Homo sapiens: one gene and its partners. The protein of the gene in region 1 interacts with the protein of each later gene in a pairwise test. Each region holds a gene or a part of one and is shown in the gene's direction. Other genes may lie near its edges.

Region 1 (7,248 bases):
ACTCCTGTCAGGGTGACAGAGTGAGACTCTGTCTCAAAAAAAAAAAAAAAAAAGGAATAATTCTCAGAGCTGGCTGACCAAGAGACAGTAATCAGAGTAGGGTGTCTGATGGACAGTTTCAGAGGTACAGCCATTGGGGGAGATGACAGGATAAAGGGTGTAGCCATAGATGGGTGGTGGTGAAGATCTCTGAGATGAGGAGCTCAAGGAATTGAGAGGCCAGGGTGTGGACATCAGGTAATATTATAACACCATTATTAGATGGAGAGAGCTGCTGAGAACTACTGCCAGAGTGAGTTGAGTAGAGTGAACTGGAGGGGTAGCGTATGATAGAGCTAGGTGACATGATGAAGGTAGTAGCCCGGGATGAGGGTAGGTTAAAGGGTGGGATGGCACAGGTAATGGAGGATAGTGGTTCTGGATAGTGCTTCTGGCTTATCTCGTGCCTTCCCATCTGTTTCCTGTAGATTGACGTGCACCTCCACGATGCCCTGGGCCGGCCACATCAGTGTGGGACAATTCAGCTTGACTTCCAACTGCCCCTGAGATTTGACCTCCAGTATAAGGGGTATAAAACCTTGCCCTATCCTCTTTTCCCTTGACAGTGCATGGAATAAGTCCTTCTGCCTTTGGCCCTAAAAACTAAACCCTCCACACCCTCTCCTGCCAGAGCTGAATATTTCTTAAAAACTGGAAGGTGATCTTGGGTACACAATTCGTGATACTTCCACCATTCCATCCACCCCCCCCTTTTTCCTTTCAAGGCAGGCGGGTGCCCTGGAGCGTCCAGTCCTCATTCACCGAGCAGTGCTCGGTTCTGTGGAAAGACTGTTGGGAGTGCTGGCAGAAAGCTGCGGGGGGAAATGGTGAGACCTCTGACCTGGATTTCTGTTCTGGCCCCAAACCGGATAGTTATGCTCCAGATCCTGTCCCCCTTCATATGCCAGCCTCTTTCCTTCTCAAGTCTGCTCCATACAAGCACACTTCTGGCCAGAGCCAGAGTGACTAATTTGCCATCACCTGTTCTTTCCCTACCAGGCCACTGTGGCTGTCCCCGTTCCAGGTGGTGGTCATCCCTGTGGGGAGTGAGCAAGAGGAATACGCCAAAGAGGTAAGGAGTTGAGGTAAGGGAGGGGGCAGAAGCAGGTCCAGTAGAGAGTCTGGTGCCCTGCAGTGGGCAGGAAGAGGCTGCAGGGGTGGTAGAGGAAGGAGCACAGCCCTCACAGCCACAAGACTGGGCTCGAGTGGCTGCTGTCCTAGATGCTGGAAATCCTGTATCTAAAAAATGTGACTAATGCCTACCTTGTAGAGATGTATGAAAATTAAACAAATTAACAAATGTTGAAAGCCACCAAAAGAGCACTTGGCACAAAACTGGGATTGAGTACACAGTTTTATTTTTCCTTTCTAGAGAGAATTGAGGATATGGATGGTACCAGAGTCAAACAGCTGGTTGGGTAGAGCAGTGGCTAGAAGGCAAAGTCCACGGAATAACTGGGGGGTCATCTCCAGTAGGAGGCAGAAAGATTGTGGGGTTGGGGATGAATGGGGAGGAGGCCTCAATGTGGAGATGAAATGAGGAGAGGTTGCTGGTAAGAAGTGGAGAGCCCCGAGGCAGGGAAAGGAGGAACAGATGGGGGCATTGAGGGAAAAGAGCATCAGACTGTTCTAGCTCCTTAACTTTCCAGTAAATTAACTTCCTGTCACCAAACCTCTGTTGCAGGCACAGCAGAGCCTGCGGGCTGCAGGACTGGTCAGTGACCTGGATGCAGACTCTGGACTGACCCTCAGCCGGAGAATCCGCCGGGCCCAGCTTGCCCACTACAATTTTCAGTTTGGTAAGCTGAACCTCAGAGCCAATGTTCTCCCACCTGCCGTCTGCATTCTTGCTGTTAAGTTTACCAAGTCTGGTAATGCATATTTGGGTTAATTGGGGCTCATTACCTGAGCAGGTAGGAGCCAGGATTCAGGACACCTGACTCATTTGGGCCCTGTGTTCCTTCACATTGCCCTGCCCTCCCCATAACCACTTCTGACACTCAAAATAGTTTTCCTCTTTTTAACTCCACTCTAGCTGTTGGTGTCTGTTAGGTTAATTAACCAAGGGAGCATCAGAGAGAAAGGGACGGGAGGGTTAATACAGCGTTAATTACCCTTGTTTATTTTAGACCTAGATGGAATCAGCCCTAAGGGATGAGGAGAAAGGCCTTAGGGAGAAAATTCTGGCACTGCCATGCTCCCTTTTTCATTTTCCAGGGTTCAGGGCTCTATCTCAAAGGTGAGGAGCAGAAACTCCTCAGCCAGATTACCTGATTCTTGAGTTTTGCACACCCCACTCTCCCTACAAGCACCCAGAGCAAGCTGTGCTGCAATCCCAGGGACTTGTACATGGCCCCTTTCCCTCCCTTACCGCCCAGTCAGCCCCTGCATACATCCTCCTCAGCAGAGGCCCCTCACTCTGTGAATCCAGCCCTAACAGACACCAAGAGCCAGAGTGGGACTGATGAGAGGAAACTGTTCTAAGGGTCAGAGTGGTTGGGGGGAGGCGGGGCAGTGTGAAGGCCACACCACTCCTGCCACCTTCCACTTGCTCTAATACCCCCTTCAGACACGCGCGCGCACACACACACACACACACACACACACACAGTTTCTCTCTGTGGGGTTCTCATTGTTTGTCTTTCTCTGCTTGACTCTAATGTCTCTGACACACACACACACACACACACACACACACACAGTTTCTCTCTGTGGGGTTCTCAGTGTTTGTCTTTCTCTGCTTGACTCTTATGTCTCTGACCCTGGGGCTCTTGACCAGAAGCGATAAGGCCTGCGGGGACTGAAGCACTTCCTTGTCTCCTCAGGATGAGCAGGACTGGTCATTTAGTATTAGCAGACACAGCTGAATACTTCCTTTCTGTGAACCATATCTGGGCTCTGCTCCCACCCTTCCTAAAGATTTAGGTCTCTCAAGTTTCTGCAGAGCAAAAGAAACTGTTCCATGTGGGTGAATTTGCCCTGAGGTTCCCAAACTTCCTCTACCTGCAGTGGTTGGCCAGAAAGAGCAAAGTAAGAGAACAGTGAACATTCGGACTCGAGATAATCGTCGCCTTGGGGAGTGGGACTTGCCTGAGGCTGTGCAGCGACTGGTGGAGCTACAGAACACGAGGGTCCCAAATGCCGAAGAAATTTTCTGAGCCTTTGTACATAGATGAGGCAAAAACCTGCGAGTGCCATCAGCCTCCCTCACATGGGAGACCCCAACCCAGCTGACAATGTGGAGCCCCCAGAACTTCAGAACTGTGTGGAGGCACATGTCTGCTCTCCTGAAAAGAGACTTGGTTTGGGGACCCCACAAAAGGAGGGAAGCTGTAGCTGTTTGGATGTGAGGAGAATGAAACTACAAAAAAAAATAAATTGGGCCAGGCGCAGTGGCTCATGCCTGTAATCCCAGCACTCTGGGAGGCTGAGGCGGACGGATCATGAGGTCAGGAGATCAAGACCACCCTGGCTAACACGGTGAAACCCTGTCTCTACTAAAAATACAAAAAATTAGCCGGGCATGGTGGCACACGCCTGTAATCCCAGCTACTCAGGAGGCTGAGGCAGGAGAATCGCTTGAACCCGGGAGGTAGAGGTTGCAGTGAGCTGAGATTGCGCCACTGCACCCCCCTAGGCGACAGAGCGAGACTCTGTCTCTAAATAAATAAATAAATAAATAAATACAAACTGGAAGCTGCTGGTCATATGTCTTCATCTCTGACTCTGGAGAGGTGGGATAAAAGGATGTTCCACTTTGTCTCCCTCTTTTTTGTCCCAGAGAGTTAGGGAAATTGAAAAGGGACAGTCCAGACCTCACACTGGTAGGGGAGATCCCTTGGATAGGTTTCCTGCTCCCCGCTGTAAACTCCTTTGTGCCCTGTTTCCCCAACCCCAGTTCATGAGTTGGCAGATCCCCTCTCCACAGAAGGCAGCCTGTAGATGGAGAAACTGAGGCACAAACTAGGGGCTCAAACACCTCTTGCTCCTGGATTCTCTGAATCAGTTTCTCTTGAAGGTCATAAGAATGTTCTCCTCTAATCAGTCCCATTCTTCTCAATCCTCTGAGGAGGCTTCAGGGTGACTTTGGGAGGAGTGGCTTCCAGAGGAGGAGCAGCTGGGACTGAGTCATGGCAGGAAGCTGAGGAGGGCGGGAGATCACACCAGACAATTATAAAAGAAGAGCTGGTCCTGAAGCTCACAACCGTAACAGCCACCAGACAAGCTTCAGTGGCCGGCCCTTCACATCCAGACTTGCCTGAGAGGACCCACCTCTGAGTGTCCAGTGGTCAGTTGCCCCAGGATGGGGACCACAGCCAGAGCAGCCTTGGTCTTGACCTATTTGGCTGTTGCTTCTGCTGCCTCTGAGGGAGGTGAGTTGGGGGATCAGCACTTAGGAGGGGGTCTGGGCTTGCATGGCAGGGGTCTGGGTCCAGGCATCCCAGACGGCTCATCACTAGCAGAGTGATTCTCCGTTTGGCTTTCCTTTTCTGAGCAGGCCCAAAGTGGGCCTAGGCCAGTGGAGCCTTTAACCAAGGAGGCAGAGAGCAGGGGCACAGAAGGAGAGGGGTTCCTAGAAACTGCTGCCAAGAAACACAGAATCCCAGTCAAATAGACAACTGAGTGGGGGGTGGGTTCACAGAGTGAGGGTCTCCTGCTGATGAGGATGTAGGGAGGTGGCTGGTGGGAGAGGCAAGGGAGGGAAAAGGGGCCCCCAGGCTGCTCAAAACCGGATTGCTGGCCCAGCAAGCCTCGACTGACTCCCTGTCTGATTAGAGGAGTTGAGGGGTGTCCATCCACAGACCCACCCTCCATCCAGCACAAACACATTCTTTATCTGCTTTGATGCCTGAACAAAACAGGAACCCCTCAATGCTATGGGTGGAAACTAAGAAAAAAAGGAAAAGAAAAGGAAAAAAACCACCCAGGGCACTCCTGCAGGAAGCTGCTGAGGATGTCAGCAAATCTGTCCACTTCTCTGTGAAGCCCCATGCCATCATTCTTCCCAGCTCCTGGTCTTTTGTGTCTGCAGATCACCTACAAGTGACCCTTCCCTGTGCCTGTCCCAGTCCCCCAGGCCCTAAATTGAGACCTAAACTAAGGCGGAGCTGAGACTGGCTGAAGGGGAAGCACTCAACCTTCAGGAAGCCTCCTTAACCAAAGGCCTAAAGATGTTTCAAGGGCCTGGAGTAGGAGGGTGGGTGGAGGAGGTGGATTGGGTAGGCTCCAACCAGCTCAAGGTCCAGACTTTTTCCTCTGAAAGCTAGAGACGCATCCCAGCAGAGACTGGGGAGGACAACCCACAGCCCTGAGGGAAAGACTGGCAGAGGAAATGAGGGCCTCCCTCCCCAATCCCGTATGCCATACTCCCTTTAGGCCCAACCTCTGAGCCAGTAGAGGTGGAGCTATCAGACCGCCACAGGCTTTCTCAGAACCCAGCTGGTCATGTCTAGGTGTGTTGGGGCTGGGAGAGGATTAGGGGACACGGGGCAGGTGAATACAGAGGGGCATCTCGTGTCTTGCTTGTCTGTCCTACACTCTTGATCTCCACAGCCTCCCCATCCCTTGCTGAAGTCCAGGGAAGGCCCTCCCAGTGGCCCCTGACTTGCCCTTCTTCCCTCCAGGCTTCACGGCTACAGGACAGAGGCAGCTGAGGCCAGAGCACTTTCAAGAAGGTAAGAGTTTGGGGGAGCAGCATGGGATTGGGACTCCAGGAGGCACTGTGGGCTCTGATGTCTCCCCTCTTGCTTCTAGTTGGCTACGCAGCTCCCCCCTCCCCACCCCTATCCCGAAGCCTCCCCATGGATCACCCTGACTCCTCTCAGCATGGCCCTCCCTTTGAGGGACAGAGTCAAGGTAAGGTCACCATCCCATGCCCTCCTCAGTGACCCTCCAGGTTTCTAATCTGGCCTATATCCCACTTTTCAGGTGGAAAGGAGGGAAGAGGCCCTCGCCCCCACTCCCAGCCCTGGCTAGGAGAAAGGGTGGGCTGCTCACACATTCCCCCTTCTATAGTGCAGCCCCCTCCCTCTCAGGAGGCCACCCCTCTCCAACAGGAAAAGCTGCTACCTGCCCAACTCCCTGCTGAAAAGGAAGGTGAGCGCTTGCCCACCCTCCCTCACCTCTATCCCACTATGGATCCTGTTGACACCAGGCTGATCCCTGCTCCTTGGTGCCCTCACCCCTATCTTGCAGTGGGTCCCCCTCTCCCTCAGGAAGCTGTCCCCCTCCAAAAAGAGCTGCCCTCTCTCCAGCACCCCAATGAACAGAAGGAAGGTAAGCAGCTCCCTCTCTTCTTTACCCACCTTTACCTCATGGCCTTCCCCCAGAGCATGGGCTTCGGGGCAGACAAGACGGTGGGCTCTGCCACTCACCAGTTGTATAACCTTGGGTAAGTTACATACTTCTCCAAGCCTTTGTTTCTTCATCTGTAAAATTGAGGATATACCTGTTTTAGAAAGTTATGTGATTAGATGTGCAAAAATAGCATCTATTTTCACTTGCTTCTCTGCTGAGTTCTTCTTTGTGCATGTAAACTAGCCAGGCTTTCTCTGCTAGAGATGGCCATCCCAACATGGCTTTTGCTTACTCCTTCTACCCAGTAGACCCACCTCTTCCATATCAGGAGGAGATAATCATCCATTCCATGCCGAGAGAGGGTGAGTGACAGCTTTGGTCTGTCCATCCTCCTGCCTTAGTGCTCAGGACCCTGGGGAGAGGAGCAGGAAGCCCGAGCCTTGAGAAGCAGGAGGAGGTGGGGGCAGGCTGTGAGCTGACACCTTTCACACCTCGCTTCTCTTTTCCTTTCAGTTATTTTAAAAGGAAGAGCCACAAATTGTTCTTTCTCATTTCCACTATATCCTCCCAACCCTTTCTCCTCCACCCCAGATTCTTTCAATCCTCCCAGCTCATCCAGCCTTTGTGGGTTCCTTCACATGTCCCCGCTTCCCACTGTTTTCCCCATTCCAGGAACGCCAGCTCCATTTGGGGACCAGAGCCATCCAGAACCTGAGTCCTGGAATGCAGCCCAGCACTGCCAACAGGACCGGTCCCAAGGGGGCTGGGGCCACCGGCTGGATGGCTTCCCCCCTGGGCGGCCTTCTCCAGACAATCTGAACCAAATCTGCCTTCCTAACCGTCAGCATGTGGTATATGGTCCCTGGAACCTACCACAGTCCAGCTACTCCCACCTCACTCGCCAGGGTGAGA
Region 2 (7,364 bases), on another chromosome or scaffold:
TAAAACTCCAATGTCGGTGGCTGGAGGAGGGTAGGAAGGGGTGAAAATTTTGTTTCGATAATACTGGGGGGCAATCAAGTCGCAACAAGGGACTTCGCAGTCGCTGAAGCACCAGCTCCTCTTTCGAGCTTAGGAGACCGCCTCCCCAATTCCAGAAGCATTGTTTTCTTGGTCCATTTGAAAGGTGTTTTGCCTATAGTTTTTCTCCTTCCTCACACCTCTCTTTGGCCATTTTGCTGTTCTGGAACTCTGACTCCTGTTCCCCACCCAGTGGAGGCCAAGACACCCCTCTCTCCCCTGGTCGGGAGCGCTGGGATGCGGGCTTCTCTCCCAGACCGAGAGCGGCGTTTCCGGGCTTCCACCCCGCCCCTGCTCCCAGGCCCTGTCGCCTCCCCTCAGCGTCCATCAGCGCGGCCTGCTTCCTGCAGCCGGCCTGAGCGGCCTTACTGCGGGCAGGAAGGAGGGCCGCGGGCTTGGAGGACCCTGAGGAAAGCATGGGATGCAGAACAGGCCCACCCGGCCCGGCCCACTGTTCAATCCCAGCCCAGCCTGCAGGTCAGGATTGGAATCATTTTTTATTCGCTATCATTTACGAATTAACAACACAACACGCATCTGGGGAAAGAAATGAAAGCTGGGGGTAGAGAGGGGCTAGCAAACGCCCTCTTCCCCTAATCTTCCCCTCCCACCTCTCCTCTGCTCCTTTGTCAGAATCACAAAACCCTAAAGATTGTTCCACTTGAGAAGGCAGCGGATAGGTACATTTCCGCAGCCCCGAAATGCCACTTTTATGGCGCTGTTTGTCTCCCTGTTCTGGGTTCTCAATGGGGCCGAACAAAACAGCAGCGCGGAGCTGGCTAGACGTCTGGGCTTAATTGTTTTATGGTTTAAATAAGGTGGACACTTTCCTTTGAAATCGGATTATAGGAATGTTTTGTCTATGGCCCACGGAGAACAGGACCTCACTGGCTGAGAGGGAGAGGTGGAGAGCGCGCGCGCGAGAGGGATGGGCTACAAACCAGGGGTCAAACAGCCTGGAGAAGTCCGAGTCCCACCCCAAAGTCCTGCAGGCGGCGGCGGAATAGTCGGTGCGGGGCCAGCATCAGGGTAAGAGGAGGGAGGACTTTAGGGTGCGCGCCGCGGGCAAGCCGTCGTGGGAGCCTCGGAGCGTGCATCCGCGTTCGCGGAGATGTTCCAAGCCCAGAAATGCGCCTGAATGGGGGGAGATCGCGGCAGTTGCTTTGCTTAGAGTCTCTTAATTGGAGAAGGGAGGGTAACAAAAAGAGAAAACAGTGTGGAACCTTTCACAAGGTTTTATTTCAAGAACTTAGAAAACAAAAGAACAGCAGTCCTGGGGCAACTCCCAGGGAATCTCTCTCTTGAGCACCCATCTGGAGGTTCCTTCCTCCCACTTCCCACCTTTGGGGCAAGCCTGGGACCTCTTGTTAGCTTTTTCCCAGCCGGACTGCATTGGACCAAATGGACGCGAGGTGGCGCTGTTGCTCAATGTTAGAGGCGGCGGTGCCCCGGGCCGCCCTGGCCGCACTGACATTTGAGGCCCGGCCCGCAGCCGCTGCAAGAAGGCCCCGCGCCTCGGCCGGCCCGGCCCCACTGGCTCTGAGCAAATCAATCCTCTCACCTGCGAGGTGTAAATAATTCGCGAGTGGCAGCGGGAGATGGGCCCTCGATCTGGCAGCGGGCTCGGAAGGCTCAGGAGGGCAGGCATTAAAAATAATCGCTTTGTGGAGGAGATAAGTGCAAAGCAGGCAGCGCGTAATTAACACAAAAAGGCAGAATGACCCGGACAAACGAACATAAATCCGTGGTACCTATGAGGGCGGTGCAGGCCTCGGGGAGAGGGACAGAGACGGCCTCGGCGAGGATGGCTGCTTTCGGTTCCTTTATTTCCAGGCTCGGGGAGCGAAATAAACCAGATAACGTGTAAAAGAAAGCAAACAAACAAATGAAAGAACGGTGAGGGATCCCCAAAAGGGGAAACCAAGTCCGGCCAGGGGTTGCGGGACTGGTGGGCTCTCCGGGCAGGCGGCGGTGGCGGCACACTCGGGACAGTCGCATTCCAAGACACAAAGCCCCGGAAGAATAGCTCTCTGGCAGGGTTTTCGCTGGACCATAAAATGTCGAAATATCCCCCCACCCCACCCCCTAAATGATAAGGCGCAGGCCCCAGAGCGGATCCAGCCCTCTGGGCCTCCTTTTTCCAGGCTGGGAAGAGAAAGTATTTATGACAGTCTCCAGTGACCCAGATGCTGGGAGCCCAGAGTCCACTCTGTTCATCGCAGCACCCGAAGAGCAGGCTCAGAAAAGGCAGGGCTGGAGCCAAGGCTGAAGCGAGCTGTGGTACGGGTAGAGACGCCCTGTCCTGACCCCTACTGTTCTGGACCCTAGGGAGGCCTGCAGCCCTGGCACAGCCCTCTTCTGACCCTTCCCTCGTGCTGCTCCAATGCCAGAGTTCTGGGTGTCTAAGAGTTTGGGCAGCTCCTGAGATGGGGGTGGGATTCCCCAAATGCAGGGGATCCTGGAGGGAGCTCTTGCTGCCTGCACCAGTGAATCTCCTTTGGGAATTTGACAGAGAGTGGCCATTTCCCCAGCAATTACTTAGATAATAGGGGGACTGGGTTGGGTGGGAGGAGGTGTTCATTCTCTCTAAACCATCCTGCCCTGAACCGCCATTCCTTCTTCCATCTCCAGAGCTGGGCTCCGGATGGGGAAGGAAAAGGTCTGGTTGCCTAACCACCTCCTTCCTCATCCAACCCTGAAACCCCCAGGATGTGGAAGAAAAACAGGTAGCATTTTGCTTTCATAATGCAAAGACCTAAAGATGCATCTGTGTTTGTCAGGCATGTATGCATGTGTGCCTGGGTGTGCACATGTGCGTACAGTGTCTGTGAGGTGGCAGGGATGCTTCCAGGCATGTGTGTGCTAGTTTACACTGAGCATGGACTTGATGTGTCTCAGGGTGAAAAGTAGCACGTACAGTGTGTGTGTGTCCTGAGTGTGCTCTAGGATTTCCTGGGTGTAACAGCCTCACACCCTGGTGAGGGAGAGGACTGGAAAAATAATTCTTACTCATCTTTTTCATTCATATGCACACAGCATGCATGTATTCTCACCTTCTCCCTTTTTCTCTCTGTCTGTGTTAAGCCCAAATCACTGTACACACTTATGGCCAGAGAAGGGTGCTGATGGACTAAGGTTCTTTAATCCATTAGAATTAACTTGAACGTATTCAGTCTTGGGGATGGGGGAACCCTCCAGAGAAAGTGTGGATAAATATTTAAAGAGTGTCTGTTGATAGTTCCCATCCACATCCTGGCCTGGGCAGCCTGCCTGGGGAAGAGGGAGCTGCAGTGAAGCCAGGGGCCCCACCAGGCTGAGCTGGCATTTCCTATGGCATGGGGGTATGTGGGGACAAGTAAGAGGCCTGCTCCAGTCCCCTCCAACTCAGATGCAAATAGTCTCCTAAGAAGAAATGTCCTGAATCAGCCCAGCTAGAAACCAGGGACACACAGCTGCCCTTTCCTTTTAGTCTCCATAAGCAGCTTTGCTCTCAGAGCCCCTAGCCAAGCTTGTGGCCATTGCCTGGGTTTCCTGCTCCATGCAGGGGCTCGTGTCTGAAGGGGCAGTGTGGCCCTGACTGGGTATATGGAGTTTTCCCCAGCCCCACCTCCTCTGACCCTCTCCTCTACCCATAGCAGGTAGCAAGAGAGTCTCCTGGATCTAAGGAAGAAGACAGAACAGCTTCGGACCCTGGGGAGGGGCCAGGGGATGGAGGGTCTGATGCCTGAAGTATTTGGGAGTATGGTGTGCTTGTTCCTCCTCAAAGTCTCCAGACTTAGGGACCCCCTAGGAAGCCCATCTTTTGGGTTAGGGGCCCTGCTCTGGCTTGCAGGTATTCATCCCCTTGGAGGTCTTATACCTGTTGAGGTAACCTGGGTTGACCTGCTGGCTCAGGTATCTCTCTCTCTCTGAGAAGAAGGAAAAGAGAAGCGAGGCTGGGGGCGAGAGGCACCTTCACATCTAAATTCGTACCCTGGAAAACTGGCCCCAGCCATTAGCTGGGGCTGGCTCACCACCCCCCTACACACACCACACACCCCCATCCCTCCCCCTCTCCTCCCCTCCCCTTCCTCCAGGTCCCCCCAGCCCTGTACCCCTCAACCCCCGCCATCTCTCTCTCTCTCTCTCTCTCTCTCTCTCTCTCTCTCTCTCTCTCTCTCTCTCTCTCGCCTGTCTTCATGTCGTGGATTGATGAACGCGAATCGCGTGTAAGCGCCGCCACCGCCGGGAGTCTGAGGAATTCGCCTGGGCTGTTAGAGGAAAGAGCTAAGTGAGAGAGCGCGAGCTCTACCTACCGACAGTGAGGAGCGCCGCCGCCGCCGCCGCCGCCCGCTCGCCGCCCGCCGCCGCCGCCGCCCGCGCCCCAGCCCCGGGAGCTCTGCTGATCCGGCCGAGCTCAGCACCGAGGCGCCCCCCAACCTGCCCAGCCCCCAGCCCACCAGCCCAGCCCAGTCCCGGGGAGCCAGCTGGCCTGGGGTTCGGTCCCGGGGGGAGGGGAGTTTCGGGGGTACTGGGCGGGGTACTCGTGAGCCAGAGGGGAGGGGGCCGCGGGTTTTCATGTACCCAGCATGAGCTCCTACTTCGTCAACCCCCTGTTCTCCAAATACAAAGCCGGCGAGTCCCTGGAACCGGCCTATTACGACTGCCGGTTCCCTCAGAGCGTGGGCAGGAGCCATGCGCTGGTGTACGGGCCCGGCGGCTCGGCGCCCGGCTTCCAGCACGCTTCGCACCACGTTCAAGACTTCTTCCACCACGGCACCTCCGGCATCTCCAACTCAGGCTACCAGCAGAACCCGTGCTCGCTTAGCTGCCACGGAGACGCCTCCAAATTCTATGGCTACGAGGCGCTCCCCAGACAGTCCCTTTATGGGGCTCAGCAAGAGGCGAGCGTGGTGCAATATCCCGACTGTAAATCCTCCGCCAACACTAACAGTAGCGAAGGACAAGGCCACTTAAATCAAAACTCGTCTCCCAGCCTCATGTTTCCATGGATGAGACCCCACGGTGAGAAGCCTTTTCTCTTTCCCCCTTGGTCTCCCGCGCTCCAGGGTTTCCCCCCCTCCCTCGCCTCCTTTTTGTCTGCCCTCGCTTTTTCTCCTGGCTTTGGGGTCTCTCCCGCCCCACCCCCGTGCCTGTGCCTGGGTGGTTTTCTCGAAGTTGGGAAGGCTCCGCTGGGGCGGGGCAGGGAGGGGGTGCCTAGAACATTTAGGGGATTGGGGTGAAGGTGAGAGAAAGCTGGTGTGTGGCCGCAAAGGGTTAAAAATCGTTTTCTCCATCTCTGTCTGTCTGTCTCTCTCTGACTCTCCCACTCCCCATCTCTAAAGTCAAAGTTGGGGAGGTGGCTGGGAATGGTACCCTGAGTACCCTGAGACTGTCAGCCTTTGGAACAAACCAGTTTCTCCAGAGGCAGGGAGCCTGGAGTCCAGGACACTGGCCAGGCTGTCTTGGGGCAAAGGGAGACAGACCCCTGTTGCTCTGCCCTAGCCAGAGTGTGGTGAGACTCTAAGGACAGGCTCTCTGGCTCTCTAGGGCACCCATAACCTCCTCTCAGAGAACCAGCCTGAGGGCCACTACCCCAACTTTTTTATACTTCCCCCAGTTGGGAGAAGACGGGGGAGCCTGAGAGGAGGGGGAAAAAAGAGTGCTCAAAAGGAGAGAGGCCATAGAGATTAGGGGTTCCTGAGGTCCAGAAGACCCTAGCCGCCCCCCCAATCAAGGACTTGTGGGGTCTCCCTGAGACCTGCAGAGTAGCTTAGGTCATGAGCCCCTCCAAGGGTGGCCCCTCATGGCCCAATTTCGAAGTACAGGGGGAAGCGATAAAGCGACAAGTTCCGGCGGGGATGGCCCATGATTTATTTGCTGGTCTCCAGTTAGCAATCAGGCGGAGCGGTGACACATTCCAGCAGATCAATTATTTTTCTTATTGGAAAAGCATTAGGCAGAGAGAGACAAGGAGAGGGCAGTGGGCAGAGCCCCTCTTCTTTACCCCCAGCTTTTTTTCCTTTCTTTTGGAAACAGTCTGTCCCCAGCCTCGCTCACTAAATGCCCTGCTGCACTTGTAAACAAAGCTGCAAAGGCCAGTTCCTAGGATTACAGGCCTGGTGGGGGGGATTCTACAGGGCTCCCCAGCCCCTGAAAGGCCCCAGTTTCCAAACAGACCCTAGCCCCCACCCCCACCCCACCTCCCAAGGTGAAGCCAAACAAAAACAATCCCCCAACTTTTCTGCCCTTGTCTGCCTTCTGCTCTAGCCTTTTCCATAGAGGGGAGGCGAACTGAGGAGATCAGAGAGGGGAGTTTAGAGTAGGAAGAGTGGCAAAGGAAAACCAAGCCCCCATCCAAACGTAACCAGACTGGGGTTTTCTTCTGTCCAGCTCCGGGGAGGCGCAGTGGACGGCAAACTTACAGCCGGTATCAGACCTTGGAACTAGAAAAGGAGTTTCTCTTTAATCCTTATTTGACACGAAAACGTCGGATTGAAGTCTCTCATGCCCTGGGACTGACCGAGAGACAAGTGAAGATCTGGTTCCAGAACCGAAGGATGAAGTGGAAAAAGGAGAACAACAAGGATAAACTGCCGGGAGCCCGAGATGAGGAGAAGGTGGAGGAAGAAGGAAATGAGGAAGAGGAGAAAGAAGAGGAGGAAAAGGAAGAAAACAAGGACTAAGCAAAAAAGAAAGACCCCCCCCCCCTTAGCAACTCCCTTGAAGTTTCGTTTTATGGTAGCAGATAAATTGAGAAGTTTACGACTGTCATTTGCTTTTATAGAGAATAGAATGACACTCACAACTCTAACTACCTGTCAGATACTTGCAGCTCTGGTTTTATTACCTTTGGACTTCCCCCACTCTTTATTTGTTTGGGGGCTGGAGGGGGGAGACGGAGAAACAGTGAAAAGTTCGGACTCTCTGTCTCACTCCTTGCCCCACACACACTTGTCCCTGCCCCCACCCTTCTGAGTCCTTCCTGGATTTTAAGGTCTGAGACCTGGCCTCCGTGCTCCTCGGTCTGTCTCTCACCACACTCCCACCTCCCTGCTTCTCTGGTATTTATTTTAGAGGGGAGCCCCCTCGAAATGCAGAAAAGGACTTGTGGTTTTGTTTTTATGCTAAGGCTAGTGTACTAGATGTACTTTTTCTAAAAAGGAAAGGACAGAAAAAAATGAAGAAAGGAAAGGAAGACAAATGTAAAGAAATAAGGAAAAAAGCAAGGAATATCCCCTCCCCCTCCCCCTCCCCCTCCCCAGGGCTCCCTGCTTAGAAAAACCCCCTTGACTTTCTCTAGGAAC
Region 3 (7,756 bases), on another chromosome or scaffold:
AAAAAAAATTTGCCAGGGGTGGTGGCGGGTGCCTGTAGTCCCAGCTACTCCGGAGGCTGAGGCAGGAGAATGGGGTGAACCTGGGAGGCGGAGCTTGCAGTGAGCTGAGATCGTGCCACTGCACTACAGCTTGGGCGACAGAGCGAGACTCTGTCTCAAAAAAAAAAAAAAAGTAATGTAGGGCAGGGGATGGGATGGTGAGGGTTCTATTTTAGAATGACAAAGAGACAAAACAATCAAATGCAATAGGTGGCATGGATTGGACTCAAATTCAAAAGGAAACCTTTATAATAGACATTTTGGAGTCAACTAAGAAAATTTGAATATGGACTGAATCACACATCATTTAATGGAGACATTATTTCCTTAGGTGTGAAAAGGGGCCGGGCTCAGTGGCTCACACCTGTAATCCCAGCATTTTGGGAGGCCAAGGCGGGCAGATCACCTGAGGTCAGGAGTTCAAGACCAGCCTGGCCAACACGGCGAAACCCCGTCTCTACAAAAAATACAAAAATTTAGCTGGGCGTGGTGGCATGCACCTGTAGTCCCAGCTACTCGGGAGGCTGAGGTAGAATTGCTTGAACCCAGAAGACAGAGGCTGCAGTGAGCCGAGATTGCACCATTGTACTCCAGCCTGGGCAACAAGAGCAAAATTCTGTCTCAAAAAAATAAAGGGGGGTATTGAGGTTACGTGGGGGACTGTTCTTGAGAGATACATGCTGGAGTGTTTAGGATGAAATGGCAGGATAAGTGCAACTTCAAATTTAAAAATATACAAATGTTTAACAAATATATAAATAAATACAGCAAAATATTATTCTTGAGTCTAGTTGGTAAAAATACGGGTGATTTTTGTATTCTTTCAACTTTTTGGGGCATGGTGGCTCACGCCTGCAATCCTTGCACTTTGGGAGGCTGAAACGGGAGGATTGCTTGAGCCCAGGAGTTCAAGACCAACCTGAGCAACATGGTGAAACTCTGTCTCTACAAAATAAAAATTAAAAACTTATCCAGGATTTGTGGCACACACCTGTAGTCTCAGCTACTCAGGAAGCTGAGGTGGGAGGATCACTGGAGCCCAGGAGGTTGAGGCTGCAGGGAGCCTCGATCGTGGCACTGCCCTCCAGCCTAGGCAGCAGAGTAAGACCCTGTCTCAAAAAAGAGGGGGCCTATTGAGCAACCCCTTGGCTCTGAGGAGAAAACAAACCCCAGGATTCTGCACCGGAGAGGCCTCTGCCCCCAGTCTGAACATGTGGTTGATGCGGGCTCTCCAGACAGGTCACTGGACTCTTTCCACCACACATCCCCTGTCTATTTATTCTTTAACTTGTTCTTTTATAAAACAGGTGCCAATCTACCAATAAGTAATGTACATTCTCAAGTATAAGAATAGGGGCTCAGGGCTGGGCGCAATGACTCACGCCTGTAATCCCAACACTTTGGGAGGACAAGGCAGACGGATCACCTGAAGTCAGGAGTTCAAGACCAGCCTGGTCAACATGGTGAAACCCCATGTCTACTAAAAATACAAAAATTAGCTGGGCATGGTGGTGCGTGCCTGTAATCCCAGCTACTCAGGAGGCTGAGGCAGGAGAATCGCTTGAACCCAGGAGGCAGAGTTGCAGTGAGCCGAGATTGCACCACTGCACTCCAGCCTGGACGACAGAGTGAGACTCCATCTCAAAAGAAAAAAAAAAAAAAAGAATAGGGTCTCAGCTAGCACCTACCTCGAGAATACTCAGCCTACTTTGGAGACCCCTGGTTTGAACTGGGAGTGAAGGAAGCAGGCCGTAGTTCTCGTTCATCTTGGTATCCCCAGCATTTGGCATAGGAGCTCATTAACTGCTCATAAAATGAATAAATAATTGAACTAATGAATGAACAAGTCTGACCTACTGGAGGCCACATGAGGAGTGCAGGGGAGTGGAGGAGCAACAATCCAAGGTCCTTGGGCTCGGTCCTGTTCCAGGGGCCTCACCTCTCTTGCAGAGCCTAGGAAGCCCCCTATGAGCCAACCTCACTCTGGCCCTAAGGCTGCAGAGATAGTGGGGTTTATTTTAGTTTTATAAAATTCACATGCAGGCTGGGAGCAGTGGCTCACGCCTGTAATCCCAGCACTTTGGGAGGCTGAGGTGGGTGGATCACTTGACATCAAGAATTTGAAACCAGCGTGGCCAACATGGTGAAACCCCAACTCTGCTAATAATACAAAATTAGCTAGGCGTGGTGGTGTGCACCTGTGATCCCAGCTACTCGGGAGGCTGAGGCAGGAGAATCGCTTGAACCCAGGAGGCAGGGGTTGCAGTGAGCCAGGATCGCACCACTGCACTCTAGCCTGGGCAATAGAGTAAGACTCCATCTCAATGACAACAACAAAAAAAATCACATGCAATATTTAAACTTCTGGGGCCAGTAACCTATTTGGGAATCCAGTGTAAGCTAAGGCTCCCCTCCCAGCAAACCCACATTCTGAAATCAGATACTCCTCAAAGTTTGCACAAGATCTGAGATGGTTCAGGGACTCCCCACTGCCAAGTCCACATGCGGGCTCCAGGTAATGAACCCCAGGACTCCGAGAAGCCAAGGAAGCTCATGGCTTATCTTACTTAGTGAGACCTCCCTGGGTTGACATCTCGCCTCTCAGCTGCTACAGGGCTCCAGGCCCCCTAGTCATTTTCAGAAGGGTTTGCAATGAAGAGAGGAAGGGGCTGCTGAGCCCAGTGGCCTGGGGCATCGCCAGCTCTGGACCTGGGTCTTCTCTAGGAAGAAGCCTCAGCCCCCACCCACAGTGGGGTGTATATGACCCCCTAGTTCTCTAATGGGTGCTGCTGGCAGACCCAGGCCCCTCAGGCAAGCTGTTTTTGGCCGTTCTCTGAGCTCCTGCTCCATGTTTCTGTTTTTTGGGGTGGATAGGTACCTGCTGGAGTGACTCAGGTCCACAGGGCACTTGTGCTGGCCTGACACACACAGATCTGAGTGCTTCAACCAAACTGGGACTCCTTCCACATTGTTCCCAAATCCAGGAGCAAGCCTCTCTGAACACTTTCTCTGTGCAGAACAGCTCTCAGATGACCAGGAAAGGTGGCGACTCACACATTTGCAACCAGCACCCCTGCAATCACTCTGAGAGGTAGCAGTGGAGGAATCTGTTTACAGATGACAGCATGGAGGCTCAGGGAGGCTGTGTGACCATCCCATTCACTCAACCACCCTTTTATTGAGCACCTGCTATGCACCAGGCATGGTGCTAGGTGCTAGAGAGTAGCTGCCCTTGGAGTCACAGTCCAACAGTGTGGCGAGATTCCTAAACATCATTTCAAACCAATGTGGCAAATGCCATGTAAAAGCCATGGCCCAAGGGTTATGGGGACACATAAACCAACTTGGGGTGTGGAGAGGTCAAGGAAGGCTCTCTAGCACGTGGTTGGTGCAACGTCTTCAAGGACAAGAAGGATAAACTGGGCTCAATGTCATGGGAAGGGACCAGCCTGTTGAAAAAGCACGGTGGCTTGAAACCGCATGGTTTGGACAGTGCTGTGCCAGCAGTCTGGTGTTGTTTGGCATTGCTGGCCAGTAAGCCTAGAGAAAAATGGAGCCCTGGCTGGGCATGGTGGTTCACGCCTATAATCCCAGCACTTTGGAAGGCCAAGACGGGTGGATCACCTGAGGTCAGGAGTTCGAGACCAGCCTGGCCAACATGATGTACTAAAAATACAAAAATTAGCCGGGCGTGGTGGCGGGCACCTGTAATCCCAGCTACTCGGGAAACAGGCAGGAGAAGCGCTTGAACCCGGGAGGCAGAGGTTGCAGTGAGCCAAGATTGCACCACTGCACTCCAGCCTCGGCGACAGAGTGAGACTCCATCTAAAAAAAAAAAGAGAGAGAAAACAAAAAGAAAAAGAAAAATGAAGCCCTTCTCTGACCTGAACACCCGTGGTAAGCAGTGGCAATGGAGAGACTGCTCTCAGAGGACTGACGGGAGGGAGGGGCCAGCTCTGTAACCAGCTTGTTAAGAACAACTGTAACAAGGCATCGAGTGCCAATCCATGCCAGGTCGGCACTGACCTCTCCAGGGTATCACTGTTCACACTGTAAGGAGATTTAAGTAGCTTGTTGAAGGGTGCACCGAGGACCCGACCCTTCCTCGGCTCTCCCTCTGGATACAACGTGAGGTTAGGGGTTGGAGGCTGAGAGGACCCCGTGAACTGCAGAGCAGAGCTGGGACGGGGAGTCAGGCCTCCCGACCGGGCCGGGGGCACTCCCTGGGCCCATGCCTCGCGCTGGCACGGAGAGCGGGGAGGGGGGTACGCGGCTGACGACCGTCGGGGCAGCAGCAGCAGCACAGCCCGGCGTTGGCTAGCGGCCCAGAGTCGGGGCAGGGAGGGTTCCCGTGCGGACGGGGGCTAAGAGGCCGCCTCCAGCCCGGGGCAGTCCGCGCACCCGAGCCTGGAGCCCGGAGCCTGGAGGGGTGGGGAGGCCCCGCGCCCAGGGCCGGACCGGAGGGAGAGGGAGAGCGGTGGCTCCTCCCCCGGCCCCCGCCGCTAGCCGATCGGGGCGCTGGGCGGGCGCCGCGGGAGCCGCAGCCCTTTCCGGGGGGCGGACCCGGCTCCGGCGGCGGCACCCAGCTCCTGCCCCGACAGGTGCGCGCCGCGCGAAGGAATGCAGCCGGTCTGACTCACCAGCGCCTCCTTCCTACCTGCGCGCCCGCCCCATAAAGCGCTGCCCGCCTCGTCCCCACCCCCCCAACCCCCGCGCCCGCCCTCGGACAGTCCCTGCTCGCCCGCGCGCTGCAGCCCCATCTCCTAGCGGCAGCCCAGGCGCGGAGGGAGCGAGTCCGCCCCGAGGTAGGTCCAGGACGGGCGCACAGCAGCAGCCGAGGCTGGCCGGGAGAGGGTGAGTGCCCGCCCCAGCTGGGCAGCCGCGCAGGGGAGCTGGTCGGGCAGGGCCGGTGGCTTTTGTCTCCCCTTCCCCTCCCTGAAGGCTGACAGGCCCCGGTCCCTCTGTCCACGCTGCGCAGGACAGGTGCCCAGCCTCCCCGGGGTGCGCCGGGGGCAGCTGGCAGCCAAGGGGCAGGGCAGCTAGAGAAGGGTGGTGCCCATCAGACCTCCAGGCCAGAGGAGCGCCTTGGGTGCGCCTGCGGGAGAAGTGGGCAGAGGCCAGTGGCTGGTAGCCCTCTGGGGCTGGGCCCCTCCAGGGTTTGCAAAGAAGGTGGAGTAGACACCAGCCTGAGTGCTGGGCCCAGCCCATCATGGCGCATCTAATGATAAACCAACATTCCTGACTTTTATGTGAAATTTCGTTCTTTCTAACATTGGCTCCTACTTTTAAAAGCCACCCTGAGAGGCAGACGCCATCCCGGCTCCAGGCAGGGCTTGCTCTATGCGGTGCCACAGTCCATCTGGGGCTGGGGAGTCCCTGATTTTCCTTTTCTCTTGGCCAAGCACAGGCCTGCCTTCCTCCCAAAGTCAGCCCCAGGCGCCTTCCTTCAGGAAGCTCTACAGGCCTCACCCACCAGCCCCAGGGCTGTGCCCAACACTGCCACCTCCTGCAGCATCCGCCCTCTTTCCCATGGCTCAGCCTCTGGGGTGGCCCTCTGGCTGGGACTGGGGCTCTGGGGCTCCTGGTGACTCCCAGGAGCAGGGACAGGGCTTCTCCTCTGCCCCCATGGCCTTGCCACACCCTGAGGACAAGGACCAGGCACAGGTGGCATGGTTGTTGCTGTCCGAAACAGAGCTGGCAGTGAAGGCTTGGAGTCTCCATCCTGGGGGCTGAGGGAAGGACAGCAGGAGGGACAGGAGGGGAGGTATGTCTGTCTACTCGACCCTGATTTCTCAGGGAGACAGAACAGCCAAGGGCCTGGGGTCCCCAGACTTCTGGCCAGCTGCCTCTCTGGGGCGAGGAAGGGCCTGGGTCCCTGAGGGGAGGAGATGTGACAGCGGGAGAGGATAGTGGACAGGAGCAGGTGTGCCCAGAGGGGTCCCCAGGGGTTGGGATGGGGGCCAGGGGAGCTCTGAGCCTGTGGGTGGGTGGGCATGGCCTGTGTGTGTGTGTGTGTGTGTGTGTGTGTGTGTGTCCCTGTGGGGGGGAAACTGCCTGTGCTGCAGTGTGATGGCATTCAGGGTGGCAGTCACACACTCCAGGGACCTGCTGGTACATAAAGTCGGGGCAGCCTGGTGGGGTCCGGGCCGCCTGGAGAGTAGGTGTCCTGAGCGCTGGGCCCAGCCCATCGTGATACATCTAATGATAAACACAAATTCCTAACTTTTATGGGAAATCTCGTTGTTTCTAACATTGGCTCCTACTTTTAAAACTTTCTAAACAAATGAAGCCAAACACTCTTGGGTGCCTCGCCAACCCTCTAACTGCCATTTTGTAGCTTCTGCGTGGAGGCTGCCATGGAGGTTAAAGGCAGGGCCTGCAGAGCAGGGCCCTGTCCTGGCCCTCCCAGTGCTGTCCGCGGGATGGGGAAGTTCCACAGCCTTCTGTGCCTGGTCTCTCATCTGGGAAACGGGCAGAATGAAATCATCTCCCGCCGGGCTCCTGTGCTGAGCAATCTCCTCCGTGAAGCCCTGGGCTCATATGGCAGTCACAGTGTGGGAATCAGCACTGCCTGAGGGGCTGTGGCCAGGGACAGTGGGAGGAAGAGCTGGGCTCAGCTCTCCAGGCCTGTACCTGCCTGTGTAATGATGCCTGGGAGGCCTGAGCCTGCAGCCTGTATTGTGTAGCATGTGGGTGTGGCGGCTACACCCCGAGGCTGCAAGGAAGTCATTTCCCTCTAGGAACCCTGCTGTCCCCACCCTTTCCCTGCTGGCTCAGGGCTGCCTCCCAGTCCCTGTGCCACAACAGGTCTGACCTGCATGTGTTGGCGCTGCTGTGGCCTCCTCCAGGCTGCACGCCTTAGAAGCAGGCTACGCCTTCCTGCCCTTGGCCTGAGAAGGGCTTCTCCAGCACCTCGGGGACCCCAGCCCCCAGACCCTGGGGTGGCCACTGCCCCAGAAGCCGGGCTGAGACAGGATTCAATGGGGAGGGCCCGTGGGCAGGGCAGAGGCTTGGGCCCCTGGGAGACCTGGCCCTAGAGAAAGAGGCGCGGTGCTCACCTTTGCCCCGGCCTTGCAGGCCTGGATGGCTCTGCCGCCAGCCTCTTTTCTTGTCCAGGCTTCAGGCTGAGCATCTCTTAGAGGGCCTCAGGGATGTCCAGTCCTGCCCTGAAGGCCGCTGAGGACTTAGGATGGTTTAATACTGAACCCACAGCCGCTGGGGACGCCTTGAGGGGAGCCACAGTGTGTGTGCATGTCTCACTCTGGGCTAACTTGTGAAAGGGTGAACAGCTCAGGGGCCCAGAAAACTTAACTCTGGGGCAGGCAGAGGTACAGGGGAGGGCAGATGATTCAGACCCCACCCTGATGGGCCGGGCAGTCACTGCAGAACCCAACCCGGTGCAGTAAGCCACTGCGGGCAGCTGTGGCCCAGCCCCAGGCCCCAGATATTGGGAGGGGCCCCTCTCCTCCCGGCTGTGCCACCCTCACCAAAGGGTAAGTGGGCCAGGACAGAAGGAGCAGGAGGCAGAGCTGCGGCCCCCTCTCAGGGAGGCACCCTCATTGGATGACCCTGTCATGGCCAAGCCTGACCCAGGCTCACTGGGAGCTAAAAGGCAAAGAAGAATAAACCCACATCTGCCCTCAGGGAGCCCAGTGCTGAGAGGCCTGGCACTGGGACAAACTCGCAAACCAGAGTCCTTGAGGGCTGGAGGGGGCCT
Region 4 (7,041 bases), on another chromosome or scaffold:
TGTTGTTGTCAAACCTGCTGCTGACAGGAGCCAGCCTGCCCTTTCCTTGGGGACCCAGACCCCGCACACCCAGATAGGAAAGAAACCAAGGCCTCCTGAGTCAAAGTGCCCACCATGGCAATCCAAAACTCCAGGAGGGAAAATGAAGGCTTTCTGGATTGACTTACAAGGGCAAACTCATCAAGGGCACCTGCTGGGAGCTCGACTTAGGTTTCTTCTCTGCACTTGGCTTCAGGCGAGAGCCGTGAGGAAGCTCTGAAGAGCCCTCATCCCTCAGTCTCAGTTTCTCCCAGTCCCTGTTCTAGGCCACAGATTGCAGAGAACACCTCAGGGTACAAACCACAGGAAGGTGATCTAGAAGGGCCAGGTGAGGAAATAAGTGCAGAGAGGTTAATTGACTCATCCAAAGATGCACAGCTAGTCGATAGCAGAGCCCAGACTGAATGCCAGGACTCCTGGAGGCTAAGTAGATCATGAGGAACACAGCAATTGCTCAAGGAAAAGGAAAATGCTAGAATGCACAGGGGACCAATTGAGACACTGAAAACCAGGCACCAAGACCCATTGGAATCTAATGAGATTAATTTTAGAGTAATAATATCATACTGACCATACTTTACTATGAATATACACTGTGCCAGGCACTTTACTGCATACTGCACATACATTATTTCACTGTGACAAGGATGGTTATCCCCACTTAACAGATGGAGAAACTGAGGCTGGAGGAGTATAAATAACTTACCCAAGACCACATGAATACTGAGGGGAAATGCCAAGATTATCCCCAGCCCTTCTGCCCCCAAAGTTCAGGCCTTGACTTGTTATGATACTGACTTTCATCAAAAGGAGGGCCGTGATTCATGCCTGTAATCCCAGCACTTTGGGAGGCCAAGGTGGGTGAATCTCTTGGGCCCAGCAGTTCAAGACCAGCCTGGGCAACATAGCAAAACCCTGTCTCTACAAAAAACACAAAAAATAGATGGATGTGGTGGCTCATGCCTTTAGTCTCAGCTTCTCAGGAGGCTGAGGTGGGAGGATCACTCGAGCCTCGGAGTTGGAGGCTACAGTGAGCCATAATCATGCCACTGCACTCCAGCCTGGGCCACAGAGTGAGACCCTGTCTCAGAAGAAACAAAAAAAGGAGAAACAATGAGCTGAATGTCCTCATTGATGTCATTTCTTTTAGGTTGCCATATGTTCAGGCCCTAGACTAAGACATCTTCTAGATGAAAGTTAAGACAAAAAGTATAAACCTCCCTGAGAGAAGTCAACTCATGAATGGGCTGGTTGGGCTACATGTGGGTGGTAGAGATGCTTTTTGGGGTCAAGCTTGGGCTTATATGTGTGTGTTTGCCATGTTGAACACTAAGACTCTGTGTCTTGACATTTGACATCTGACCTAGAACCAGGATCCTCCTGGTAGGCCAGGCCAACAAAACAGGGCCTATTTTTTCTAAACATTAGAAACCAAAAGATTTAGTAAAGTTGGTCAGACATTGATGCTGCACACCAAGGTCTATCTGAACAATTGACAGAGCTGGATTCCAGAAAGTTTAATTAGTAAGGGGATGTAGGGGAAAATCCAACATCCTTCCCAGGGAACGGTGCTGTGTTAATTCACTCCTAGGATCCCCTACCTATTACCCTCAGAATAAATCCTTGGCTTGCTTGCTGCCTGGAAGAGAAATCATGCAGGTGTTTCAGAGCATTAAGGAAGTTATTTCTTCCTCATGTTCACTCCGAGGTCAAGGACAAGAATGCTAGCTTTGGCGTTGGGAGGACCTCAGTTCAGTTCCCAGCCTGAACTTAAGTCTTGCACTGCAGTATAAAACAAGTGTTTTACTTTTCACTTCATCACATTATTGGATTTGATTATGTGGATAATCAGGGCTGCTCCAGAGCATATTTGCAGGGCAGTCTACGCAGTAAGCCATACATGGCAGCTCTGCAAAACCGGCACAGCAGACAGTGGTGTGAAGTCCACCCAGCAAAGCTCCCTCTCTTTCCCCATTCCCCATTCTGTTCCAGCTCAATGCAGGAAGTGTATGAAATTCACCCCCTATAAGCCAGGCCCTGTGCTGGGTGCTAGGAGTAGAGCTACAATGAAGTCAAGATTCCTGCTGCCCAGAGACTTCCACTCTAATAAGAGAGACACAGGGAAGTAAACATAATCTCAGTGAGGTATGAGGCATGCCATTAGAGGCATGTAGAAGAATGGAAACTGCACAGAGGAGTGTGAAGTTAAGTGTCTTAGAGAGGGGTAAAAAGACTTGCAGAGAAGTGATACATAAACCAAGTTTTGGAAGACGAACAGAAACAGTGAAAATGATAGAGTGAGCAGAGGGGAAGAGCTCATAGAAAGGGATAGAGTACGAATCAGAGGATCCCTGGGCTCTTTCAGGAATGTGGCTACTCACTTATTATGTCACCAGCACAGCTCACCAACTCGGACATATGGAGGAACAGCTCCTCTCACCTGCTCCCTGCTTGTGCCTCCATGGGTCTCTGACCCCCTTAGCTTAGGCCTCCTGCTCCTAATTCTGGCCTCCAGGCCCATGGCCCCAGTAACATGTTTTGGATCCATTTCCCTGGCCTTGACCTTCTGGACTCTTTTGGGCATAATCCACTCTACGATCGGCAACTGTGAATGAGAAACCCTCTTCCTTCCACCCTGCCCTGTGGTGTCCCAAAGGCCAGGCCAGCCCAGCTTCCCCAACAGTGACCAGATGCATACAAGGATCTGTAAGTGTCTCATGGAGCTAGATTACCACACATGAGTGGCAGTAGACATGGTTCCAGAAGCAGACAGGACACCAGTCCGATTCTGGCTAAGGAGTCCTGCAGACATGGGGAGCCACTGAAGGGCCTGATGCTGGGGACTGGCAAATTCTGAGTTGCCTTCCCAGGGGCTGCTCCAGAGAAGACAGGGTGGATGTATTGGAGAGAGAAGTACTAGGAGCAAAGAAAAAAAAATGCATGGAAGACCATTGCACTAGTTGAGCAAGACGTTGAGTAGGAGACAAAGTCAGGCTTCCCTGCCTTTTGTGGCTAAGACAATCATGGACCTCCCTGAAGGCAGGGGCAGAACAGACCTGAGGTCCCCCTCACTCTCTCTCGTGATTCTGATTGTTATTGAAAGCTGCCTCCTACCACATCACTATCATCATTCCTCCCCCGATTCTCTACCTCCTGCTTCTTTTCCTCCTCCTCCTATTCCTCCTCCTCTTCTTCCTCCTCTCGTCTCTCTCCCTCCCTCTGTCCCTGCTTCTTCTTCCTCCTCATCCTCCTTCATCTTCTTTCTCTCTCTCCCTAAAGCAATATGCCTTGCCTCCTGCCTCTAGCTCAAGCTGCCAGACAAGACAAAATGGAAAAGTAAGACAGAAAAGGAAGTCTGAACTATAAAAAGCCAGCTGAAGAGCAATCAGCACGTGTCTGGGAGAGGCAGACGCGACAGGAGGAGCTCGGCCTTACCACTGTCAATCAGAGGTTCCTGAGTAAGGAGACCTGACAAAGGTTTGGGCCTTCAGGAGTCTGGAAACCCTGGGATGCTCAACAACAACAACAACAAAAAACAACAACTTTTGTCATGGATTTCATCACCTAGGATCCTGGAGGAGGAAATCACAGCTCTCCCCAGCGATCCCGCCAGGCAGATGGTGGGAAATAGAGATCCATTGAATAGCACCCACAGGCTCATGTTCCGGCTTCCCTTGTGACCACCTGCCACCTCCACTGTGGCCCAGAACCATCTTCAGTGACTCTCCACAGGTCACAGCAACCTGTTTACAGACGGCTAGAATTCCCAAGCACTTTTAGGACAGGGGACTCGGGATGGTTCCAAGCAGACAGCAAAGTCTTCTCTAAGAGAAGCCGCTCCTCCCGATCTATTTTTGCCGATGTAAACACTTGCCAAGGAAACGAGGCATGTGGGCATGCGCCGGCCCTGCAGGCCCTCGGGTTGCTGCAAAAGGCAACTGGAAAGTCACATGTCATAACAGTGGAAAGTACATATGCAACTATTCTTAGCCCTGGAATGTATACACTGTCTCCCTGCCCAGCAGTCCTTGCACAAAGCTCTAGAAAACTATGAAAGTGCCTTCAGCATAAACAAATCCAGAAATCTCCCAGGACAAATCATTTGCCAACTGAAAGAAAGGCCTGGGGTTTATGGTTTCCCTTGGAGCTAGAGGTAGAAACTCTCCGGGGGGATAAGTCAGACCAGGCACCAGTGGATGTCACCGCAGCAAAACAAGGTAAGTGTCCCTCATACTTATTTCTTCTGCAAGTAGAAAACCAGGTGTCATCCAATAAACCAGGGGATTGTTTGGTCTTTCCTTTTATTTATTCTATCTTTAAAACAAGACTCAATGAAGTCATATTTAAATATATGCATCAAAGGTCCATTTTCTTCCCTCATTTCTGTCCAGTGACCAGAGGGCCACACCTCCAGAATATCATCCTTGGGGAATGATTGACACCCAGAAAGAGAGGTTTAGACATCTGTTACTCAATAACAGATATGCCATCGATCTGGAAAAAGGCTCATGAACTTCTGCTGGTCAAATCCATGGACTGTTATCTTGCTTCAGACTAACATTTCAGCTTCTGATAACAGAGTAACTTCCAACAACTTTAGTTTGTTTGTTTGGTTGTTTCTCTCAGATTAGCTGAAGATACTATTTGCCTATTACTTTTGAAAATAACCATAACCCAAAAGGGCTCAGGTCTGAGATGTATGTGGCCTTCCTTTCCAATCTTCCCTACACAATATCCATGGTGACATCCGCAAACATCATGGGGAATGGAATAGGAGCACTGGTCTTGGAGTCCCCACAGCTGAACCCTCCAGCACATGCAGCTGAGAAAGGTTTGACTCTTGCTGACTCTGGGGGCTTCCTTCCCTCTTTGTAGGATGGACGAGGAGTCACTAGATGGGCTGCTCTTCAAAGACCACGACTTCTCTTCTGACTTGTTGAGGCAGCTCAACAGCTTAAGGCAAAGCAGGATCCTGACTGATGTGAGCATCTGTGCCGGTGCCCGGGAGATCCCCTGCCACCGCAACGTGCTGGCCTCCAGCAGCCCCTACTTCAGGGCTATGTTCTGCAGCAGCTTCCGGGAGAAGAGTGAAGCCAAAGTGCAGCTGAAAGGCATTGACCCCCCAACCCTGGACCAGATCGTCTCCTACGTGTATACGGGGGAGGCACATATTGCCACTGACAATGTCCTCCCCGTGATGGAGGCCGCCTCCATGCTACAGTTCCCCAAGCTGTTTGAGGCCTGCTCCTCGTACTTGCAGAGCCAGTTGGCCCCCAGCAACTGCCTGGGTATGATCAGACTCTCAGAAATCTTAAGCTGCGAGACCCTCAAGAAGAAAGCCAGGGAGGTGGCACTGACGTCCTTCCCAGAGGTGGCCGCATCGGCCGACCTGAAGGAGCTCTGTGCCTTGGAGTTGAGGGACTATCTCGGAGATGATGGGCTCTGTGGGGAGGAGGAAAAGGTGTTTGAGGCCCTCATGGTTTGGATCAAGCATGACCTCCAGGCCCGGAAGCGATACATGCAGGAACTGTTCAAGCAGGTCAGGCTGCAGTACATCCACCCAGCCTTCTTTCACCACTTCATCGCCAACGATGCCCTCCTGCAGTCCTCGCCTGCATGCCAGATCATCTTGGAGACCGCCAAGAGACAGATGTTCTCTTTGTGTGGCACCACCGTCCCAGACTGCAAACTCCTGTTGCATGTCCCTCCAAGAAACTCTTACCAAGATTTCCTCATCCTCTTGGGCGGAAGGAAGGACAGCCAGCAGACCACCAGGGACGTCCTACTGTACAGCAAACAGACCGGCCAATGGCAGAGCCTTGCCAAACTCCCGACACGGCTGTACAAGGCCTCTGCCATCACCTTGCACCGCAGCATCTATGTGCTGGGGGGCATGGCTGTCAGCTCAGGGAGGAGTCTGGTCAGTCACAATGTCTACATCTTCTCCCTGAAACTCAATCAGTGGAGGCTGGGGGAGCCCATGCTGGTGGCCCGCTACTCCCACAGAAGCACTGCCCATAAGAACTTCATCTTCTCCATCGGGGGGATTGGAGAAGGGCAGGAGCTCATGGGCTCCATGGAAAGGTATGACAGCATCTGCAATGTCTGGGAGAGTATGGCCAGCATGCCCGTGGGGGTGCTCCACCCCGCAGTCGCTGTGAAAGACCAAAGACTCTATCTCTTTGGAGGAGAGGACATCATGCAGAACCCTGTGCGCCTTATCCAGGTAAATGGCCGGTTCTTCCCATCACGTAACTGCATGAGTATGTGTGCTTGGACACACCCACACCTGCTTGCACACACATGCACATGTATACATACACACCAAAAAACACATATATGCACATAAATATATATATGCACACATATACACAAACACACATATGCATACATGCGTGCACACATATATGCAGAAATGTATATTCATGCATACATGCATACACATATGCACACATATATGCAGATGCCAACATGCATACGTGTGCACATGCATACACATATACAATTCATGCATGCATACACACATTTACATATATCTACACATGCATGCACACATTTATACATATGCACGAACACAAATACGTACATGCATACATGCACACACATGTGCACCCATGTACACACATACCAACACTTGTTATTTGCAAGGAAGGAAGAGAGGAAGGGAGGGAGGGAAGAAGGATTTTCAGCAAGATATTTTTCAATTTATGAATTTTTTTGTGCAAAAATAATACATAACAAAGGATATCAAATACCATCCCTATGCACAGAGTTTATCTTCATTTGATGAGAAAAATATATATCTAAAAATTCAAGTTATTATACAGCATATTGAAAGTCAGATAGTGAAGTCCCATAGGAATTTGGCAGGTGCTTCTAACTCAAGTCAGTAAGGCCTTAAAAGAAGATTCCCAAGCCTTGGTCCACACCTCTGTGACCAAATCCCCTGGAACCTGACCTCACATCACTGAATCAAAATATCTTTGTGTGAGATCCTAAAAT

What was found.
Region 2: the proteins of ECM1 (region 1) and HOXC8 interact in binary tests that used the Homo sapiens proteins (3 or more experiments, as listed by UniProt).
Region 3: the proteins of ECM1 (region 1) and ITGB4 interact in binary tests that used the Homo sapiens proteins (3 or more experiments, as listed by UniProt).
Region 4: the proteins of ECM1 (region 1) and KLHL38 interact in binary tests that used the Homo sapiens proteins (3 or more experiments, as listed by UniProt).

The regions. Positions count from the first base shown.
Region 1 is NC_000001.11:150,503,868-150,511,115, forward strand, and holds the start of ECM1 (extracellular matrix protein 1 isoform 1 precursor), read left to right. Parts: upstream 1-4,241; 5' UTR 4,242-4,342; coding exon 4,343-4,412; intron 4,413-5,663; coding exon 5,664-5,714; intron 5,715-5,793; coding exon 5,794-5,895; intron 5,896-5,967; coding exon of another isoform or gene 5,968-6,054; coding exon 6,055-6,135; intron 6,136-6,234; coding exon 6,235-6,315; intron 6,316-7,008; coding exon 7,009-7,248. Other genes in the region: TARS2 (threonine--tRNA ligase, mitochondrial), read left to right, coding at 468-568, 765-866, 1,039-1,111, 1,724-1,838, 3,049-3,197. UniProt on the Homo sapiens protein: Involved in endochondral bone formation as negative regulator of bone mineralization. Stimulates the proliferation of endothelial cells and promotes angiogenesis. Inhibits MMP9 proteolytic activity.
Region 2 is NC_000012.12:54,004,639-54,012,002, forward strand, and holds the start of HOXC8 (homeobox protein Hox-C8), read left to right. Parts: upstream 1-4,346; 5' UTR 4,347-4,646; coding exon 4,647-5,082; intron 5,083-6,450; coding exon 6,451-6,743; 3' UTR 6,744-7,364. UniProt on the Homo sapiens protein: Sequence-specific transcription factor which is part of a developmental regulatory system that provides cells with specific positional identities on the anterior-posterior axis.
Region 3 is NC_000017.11:75,716,720-75,724,475, forward strand, and holds the start of ITGB4 (integrin beta-4 isoform 1 precursor), read left to right. Parts: upstream 1-4,739; 5' UTR 4,740-4,893; intron 4,894-5,559; exon of another isoform or gene 5,560-5,708; coding exon of another isoform or gene 5,709-5,803; intron 5,804-7,756. UniProt on the Homo sapiens protein: Integrin alpha-6/beta-4 is a receptor for laminin. Plays a critical structural role in the hemidesmosome of epithelial cells. Is required for the regulation of keratinocyte polarity and motility.
Region 4 is NC_000008.11:123,650,801-123,657,841, reverse strand, and holds the start of KLHL38 (kelch-like protein 38), read left to right. Parts: upstream 1-4,040; 5' UTR 4,041-4,256; intron 4,257-4,430; exon of another isoform or gene 4,431-4,914; 5' UTR 4,915-4,915; coding exon 4,916-6,265; intron 6,266-7,041.